Homo sapiens: one gene and its partner. The protein of the gene in region 1 purifies or fractionates together with the protein of each later gene. This does not show direct contact. Each region holds a gene or a part of one and is shown on either strand. Other genes may lie near its edges.

Region 1 (3,829 bases):
CTCATACTGCTCTTCCACCCTTCCCATCTTAATTGTTCCTAAAGAAATATCCTATCTCCCCCCACACACACCACCTCACCTCCATTTACAACTCTGGAAATGTTTCAAGTATTAGGCACATATACTAAGCTGGGAAAATGGCTTCACTCTATATGTATGTACAGGATTGAACTTAGGGGCCTTAGTTCAGAGTCTGTTTTTAAGTCCTCCCTCCCTCCCTCCCTCCCTCCCTTCTTTTCTTCCTACCTTCCTTCCTTCCCTCCCTCCTTCCTTCCTTCCTTCCTTCCTTCCTTCTTTCCTTCATTTTAGAGATGGGGTCTCACTTTGTTGCCCAGGCTGGAGTGCAGTGGCATGATCACAGTTCACTGCACCCTTGAATTCCTGGGCTCAAGGGATCCTTCTGCCTTAGCCTCCTGAGTAGCTGTTTTATGTTTCCTTCTAAAGGGAGAGAGGAATGGAGACAGAGACAGAGAGAAAAATCTGATGCCTTTTAGTTTTATCTCCTAATAGCACCGTGATTCCCCAGATGATGTTTGGAAAGTCTCTGACACAGGCTTGTAGCTTCCTTAAAGTGGAAGTAGCAAAACATCAATTCTCCAAGGAGCCCTTCCACAAGCTGTATGTCTGGCTGGCAAAAGGAGGCTAGCCCAGGGTGATGCTGTAGTGTCAGGTTGAGTCAAATAAATACCTTTCTGTCTTTATGGATTCCAAACTTTTTCTATATATGGCATTTAAATACAAAGGGATAATAATAACAATAATAATAATAATAATACAATAATTTACCAAGAACTTATTAGAACAAAGCATATCCTCTTTGGCATCAAAGGCTAAGAATAAGGTTGTCCTTCAACACATGCTGAATGACATAGAAAGAAACAAGTGTTAATGGTCTACGCTTAGCAAGTCAGTGAATTATCCAAGACCTTGTTGTCTGATAAATATGAAAGCCCAGAAAATAACTCAAGGCTCTGCTTCCCAATGACAAGCTTTATTCCCTGAAATTTAAGCTCGTTCATATGAAATGGGAATGCTAACTCACCTCTGTGGTGGTCTCTTTCCCTTAGTACATCTTCACTGTGCCTGAGGATGGGCACAAGGTCATTATGTCACTGCAGCAGAAGGACCTGCGCACTTACCGCCGAATGGGAAGACCTGACAATTACATCATTGGCTTTGAGCTCTTCAAGGTAAAAATGGGCATTTGGGGCAGAGAGAATGAAGGCAAACAGAGTAAAAATTAGGATAATTTAATGGTAGGGGAAGAATGGAAGGCCTAGGGATAAAAAAGACAGAGCATACAAAAACCATGATTTGAGTGGAATTGAATATTTTACCCTATTTCATTTCCAGGTGGAGATGAACCGCAAATTCCGCCTCCACCACCTCTACATCCAGGAGCGTGCTGGGACTTCCACCTATATTGACACCCGCACAGTGTTTCTGAGCAAGTACCTGAAGAAGGGCAACTATGTGCTTGTCCCAACCATGTTCCAGCATGGTCGCACCAGCGAGTTTCTCCTGAGAATCTTCTCTGAAGTGCCTGTCCAGCTCAGGTTCAGTTTCCTTCGCAAGCCCTCAAACCCCTGTTCTTTGCTTTACTTCCAATCCTAAACCCCTTCACCCGTCTCCCCTCTTCAGACATTCAATGGGACAACTTGTTTAAATCAGACTTGATTCACTGAAATCATGGTGGTAAAAATATTTCTCAAAGGGTGGTTGGGGGAAATTCCCCAGTGAAGGTCTGAACTTCAGAGCTCTGAGCTACCCTTAAAGAGGAACAGGCCTATAGTCTAAGTTCTTCCACATCAAATTTGTCTTCTGTTTTCTGGCTGATGGCCTCTTTTCTTAAGTAGGTAGCACTCCTCCCTGCTCTTCTATTATGTTCTGTGTGCTGGATCACCAAAGCCACCTTTTTGTCCCAGCCCTGCCTACTTTGATCTTTATCTCCTGGCCCTTAAAGAAAGGAGAAAGGAAAGCATGCTTAAAATATATATAAGACATATCTGAGGAGGAATGGGCTAAGTCACACAATGTCTCATGCTTTTCAGCAATGATGTCTGCTTTGGCGGGCTTATTTCATCAAAGGATATTTATCATATGATGACAATATTTTATTTTTGATGTTCTAGGGAACTGACTCTGGACATGCCCAAAATGTCCTGCTGGAACCTGGCTCGTGGCTACCCGAAAGTAGTTACTCAGATCACTGTTCACAGTGCTGAGGACCTGGAGAAGAAGTATGCCAATGAAAGTAAGAATGGCAGGAATGTCTGGGAAAGCAAAATTCAGTTGCATTTATAGCACATAAGTTAGAAAACATGATCACAAATGATTTTCTCCAGCGATATTTTGTCTAGAGAAGTTGGGAATGGATGGCAACCATGGCAGAGGATGGGATGTCAACTTCAAGCAAGGCCTACATTAGATTCATTTTCATATTCCTATATAAAATATGGAAAAGGAAAGGGAAGTGGGAATAAAAGTGTTGAATCTCAGTCATTCTGGTGCTCGAGTGCTATGCTGAAAGTCCCAGAATTGGCTTAGCGAGATACCTTCTTGTCTATCTAGAAAAGGAACTTTAATTGCTGTGTTAAAAACATATGTCACTTTGTTCCAGCTGTAAACCCATATTTGGTCATCAAATGTGGAAAGGAGGAAGTCCGTTCTCCTGTCCAGAAGAATACAGTTCATGCCATTTTTGACACCCAGGCCATTTTCTACAGAAGGACCACTGACATTCCTATTATAGTACAGGTAAGAGTGTGTACAGGGGTCGCCAGAAAGGCTCATACTTTGTACCAGATACTAGATGATCCCAAGTACCTTATATATGTTTAGGATGCAGAGCAAGAATTATCGTATTTTTTGGTTTGTTTTATACTCAAAAACTCTTCTCATCAAGCATGGACACTGACTTCCTTATTACCATCCATCCTAAATCTCCTCTCTTCCATTTATTTAATTGTGGGCAAAAGCCCACATGCTCACCAGTACACATGTTAACACACGTATCATAAAATCCCATGGAGGAAAGCTTATGCCAGTTCAGAGGACCCTCACATGGCTAGGTCAGGATGAATCACTGCAGTTTGGCAGTTTTTCTGACTTAATACTCCTGACCAGCAGCCTTTAGGTAACCATCCCACAGGTCAAGAACGACCCGGAGATTCTGTTTTCTGGCTTTTCATGTATATTCTTTGAGGTATCCTCCCCTCAACTGATGGGCTATCAGGAAAGGACAGAATAGTCTCTTGGTTTTAAAACAAATCTTTTGAAGCTCAGCATTAGATCTGGATGTCACTGGGCAAAGGCTAATCTCACTGAGGGCTGCTCATCTTCACTCCCTTCGTTTGTCTTTCCAGGTCTGGAACAGCCGAAAATTCTGTGATCAGTTCTTGGGGCAGGTTACTCTGGATGCTGACCCCAGCGACTGCCGTGATCTGAAGTCTCTGTACCTGCGTAAGAAGGGTGGTCCAACTGCCAAAGTCAAGCAAGGCCACATCAGCTTCAAGGTTATTTCCAGCGATGATCTCACTGAGCTCTAAATCTGCAATCCCAGAGAATCCTGACAAAGCGTGCCACCCTTTTATTTTCCGTCAGGTGCCAGGTCTTAGTTAAGATTCACAATCTTTAGAAAGAATGAGATTCACAATAATTAACTCTTCCTCTCTTCTGATAAATTCCCCATACCTCCCAATCCAAGTAGCATCTGTAGCTACATAACCTATATACCTCCAGCAGCTGGACATGGGGAGGCGACAGTCCTATCTAGACATCATACACATTTGCCAAGAAAGGATCTCTGGGGCTTCCGGGGGTGAGATTC
Region 2 (3,223 bases), on another chromosome or scaffold:
TGTAGTGAAACTTAATGCATTAAAGAAAGTGCCAACTTCATTTTCAGCTCCTTTACCAGACTGCCATACTTGGGAGGTAGAAGATGGTCCATTCATCCGGAACCTCTTAGAATGTGAGGTCAACTCAGAGTTAGGAGGAACCTTTACTTTCTGGATATAGAGAATGAAAGCTATTAATTACTCTAACAATCCAAGGTGCCTCTTACTTATATAGAGAAATTTTATACAAATATTCTGATTTTCAAGATTACCTGTTAAATTCTTGTGATTATAGTTTTTCATTTGCTTCATATGTCAATTTTAGATTACAAAACTCTTAGAAGAATTGAGAGAAGCCAAAGAAAACCATACACCAGAGATGAAACATTTCGTGGGCTTAGAAAAGAAAATTAAGCAGATGGAAATGAGACATGCACAAAGAGAACAGGAACTTCAACAGGTAAAGTAAATCACATTTACATATTTATATAGGTCTTTACTTTTAAGTGCCTTTAATTTGCTATAGTTTTGTCATCCCTAGCAAAAATTACCACTTAAAGTGTTTCCAGTGTATTTTGATCTTGTTAAAAATTTAATAAATTTATAACTTTTACCAGAAAATGAGACTTTATATCTCAAGTGCTTGAAGATTGGTATCCTTATATCTGGAAAAAAAGCAAAAACTTGTATCATGTTCTTAATTATTGATGGATTCCTAAAAACTTACACATCTTACCCTGGGAACAAGGCATGGTGTTCCATATTCAAGTCATTTCAGCAAATGTTTATAAGAAATAAATTGTTTTAATATGATTATTTAAAATATATAGCTAGCACTAGTAATATTACTATACTTAATTATAAACAGATAAATTAATAGAAGTTAAAAATAGCAGATGTAAGGGCATGATGTGTTTTTAGGCACTTGCCTTGGTGCTGAAATTTAACTTGGTTTGAACAGTGTATTAGTCTGCTTGGGCTGACATAACAAAATATCATAAATTGGGTGGCTAAACAGGAAAAATTTATCTTCTCACAGTTCTGTAGGCCAGAAGTCCCAGATTGAGGTTTTGGTCAGTTAGGTTTCTGGTGAGGGCTCTCTTTCCAGCTTGCAGATAGCCACCTTTTTTCTCATTCTAACATGATCTTTCCTCAGTACCATGTGTGCAGAGGAGAGGAAGAGGGGCGAGAGATCACTTTGGTGTCTCTTCTGGTGATGATCTCTTCGGTGTCTCTAGTGGTGGAAACACTGGTTCTTATCAAATCAAGTCCCCACCCTTATGATCTCATTTAACATTCATTATTTCCTTACTCCACATACAGTCACATTAAGGGTTAGGAAATTCAACATATGAATTTGAGGGGGACACAAACATTTAGTCCCTAACACAGTTGGGATGTATATACTCCTTGAAGACAGAAAATGTTGCATCCACGCAGAGCATTATGATTTACCTGAGTTCCCCAAAGAAACCCCAGGTTTGCCTACTTTAAGATTGTTAAATGTTCCTCACCCACCACTATGAACTATAACAGCAATGTGGAATTTTTGTATTTGCAGATAATACAGCAAACACACCAAGTAGTAGAAACTGAGCAAAACAAAGAAGTTGAAAAATGGAAAAGACTGGCACAGTTAAAGAATCGTGAGCTGGAGAAGTTCCGCACAGAACTAGACTCAATATTAGATGTTCTCCGAGAGCTGCACCGGCAAGGAGTGGTTGTGCCAGTTGCTTTTGCAGATGAAATGAATGCACCAGAGTATTAATAGAAATTCAGATTTCATAATGACCTTATTAAAAGGCCTGAAGATGGATGGGATTGTGCCACTGTCAGGACAGCTTATGAAAAACAAGTGTTCCAATATGTTTCCAGAAAGCAAACAACCAAAGCAACATTTCAAAATAAATTGCCTTTAACCAATAAGAAAAAAAACATATAATGGTGTATTTTACTAAAAATCATTAACCAGTCTCATTTTAAGTGATTTATGGACAGTTTCCTTTATAGCAGAGAAGGGCTCACTTGTATGCTAGAAATAGAAAGAAAAGAAAATTGAACATACTCCGCCACATTTTTATTGATAATGTGAGGTTTTTAAAATTTTTATTTTAGATCCAGGGGGTACATGTGCTTGTTGTAACATGGGTGTATTGAATAATGGTGGGAATTGGGCTTCTAGTGTACCCATCATCCAAATATTAAACACTGTACCCAACAGGTAATTTTTCAACGCTTACTGCCGCTCACACTCTTTCCCCTATTGGAGTCCCCAGTGTCTGTTATCTCCATCTTTATGTCTCTGTGTACCCATTGTTTAGCTCCTACTTTTAAGTGAGAATATATGCAATATTTTATTTTTTATGTCTGATTTAGTTCACATAGGATAATGGCCTCCAGCTCTATCCATGTTGCTGCAAATGACATGATTTCATTCTTTTTTATAGTTGCATAATACTCCATTTATATATCTCTCTCTATATATATCTCACGTTTTCTTTATCCAGTCAATTGTTGGTAGATACTTAGGTTGGTTCCATGAATTTGCTATTGTAAATATTGCTGCAATAAACATACATGTACAGATATCTTTTTTATATAATGATTTCTGTTCCTTTGGGTAGATTCCCAGTAATGAGATTGCTGGGTTGAATGGTAGTTCTATTTTTAGTTCTTTGAGAAATCTCTATACTGCTTTCCATAGAGGCTGAATTAATTTACATTCCCACCAAGAGAGTATTCATGTTCCCTTTTCTACACATTGACACCATCATCTGTTGTTTGACAACTTTTTAATAATAACCATTGTGACTGGTATAAGATGGTATCTCAGTGTGGTTTTTGTACTTCTGTAATGATTAGTGACGTTGACCACTTTTTCACGTGTTTGTTGGTCAGTTGTATTTCTGTTGACAAATGTCTGTTCATGTTTTTCTCCCAGTTTGTAACGGGATTGTTTGGGGTTTTTCTTATTGTTTTAGTTCCTTGTACCTGATGAATATTAGTCCTATCTCAGAGAAATAACTTGCATATATTTTCCATTATGTAGGTTATCTGTTTATTTAGTTGATTATTTTGCTGTGCAGAAGCCTTTAATTTTAATTCAGTTCCATTTATCTATTTTTGGTTTTGTTGCATTTGCTTTTAGGGTCTTCATTGTGAATTTTTTGCTGAGGCCAACATTCTGAAGAGTTTTTCCTAGGTTTTCTTCTAGCATTTTAATACTTTTAAGTCTTACATTTAG

Evidence for each region.
Region 2: the proteins of CAPN6 (region 1) and CEP162 purify together in Homo sapiens (affinity purification with mass spectrometry; 2 studies listed by BioGRID and IntAct, with this or other methods). This does not show direct contact.

Annotation. Positions count from the first base shown.
Region 1 is NC_000023.11:111,246,296-111,250,124, reverse strand, and holds part of CAPN6 (calpain-6), read left to right. Parts: intron 1-1,067; coding exon 1,068-1,190; intron 1,191-1,353; coding exon 1,354-1,556; intron 1,557-2,132; coding exon 2,133-2,254; intron 2,255-2,620; coding exon 2,621-2,757; intron 2,758-3,365; coding exon 3,366-3,548; 3' UTR 3,549-3,829. UniProt on the Homo sapiens protein: Microtubule-stabilizing protein that may be involved in the regulation of microtubule dynamics and cytoskeletal organization. May act as a regulator of RAC1 activity through interaction with ARHGEF2 to control lamellipodial formation and cell mobility.
Region 2 is NC_000006.12:84,123,594-84,126,816, reverse strand, and holds the end of CEP162 (centrosomal protein of 162 kDa), read left to right. Parts: intron 1-47; exon of another isoform or gene 48-195; intron 196-304; coding exon 305-439; intron 440-1,540; coding exon 1,541-1,747; 3' UTR 1,748-2,567; downstream 2,568-3,223. UniProt on the Homo sapiens protein: Required to promote assembly of the transition zone in primary cilia. Acts by specifically recognizing and binding the axonemal microtubule.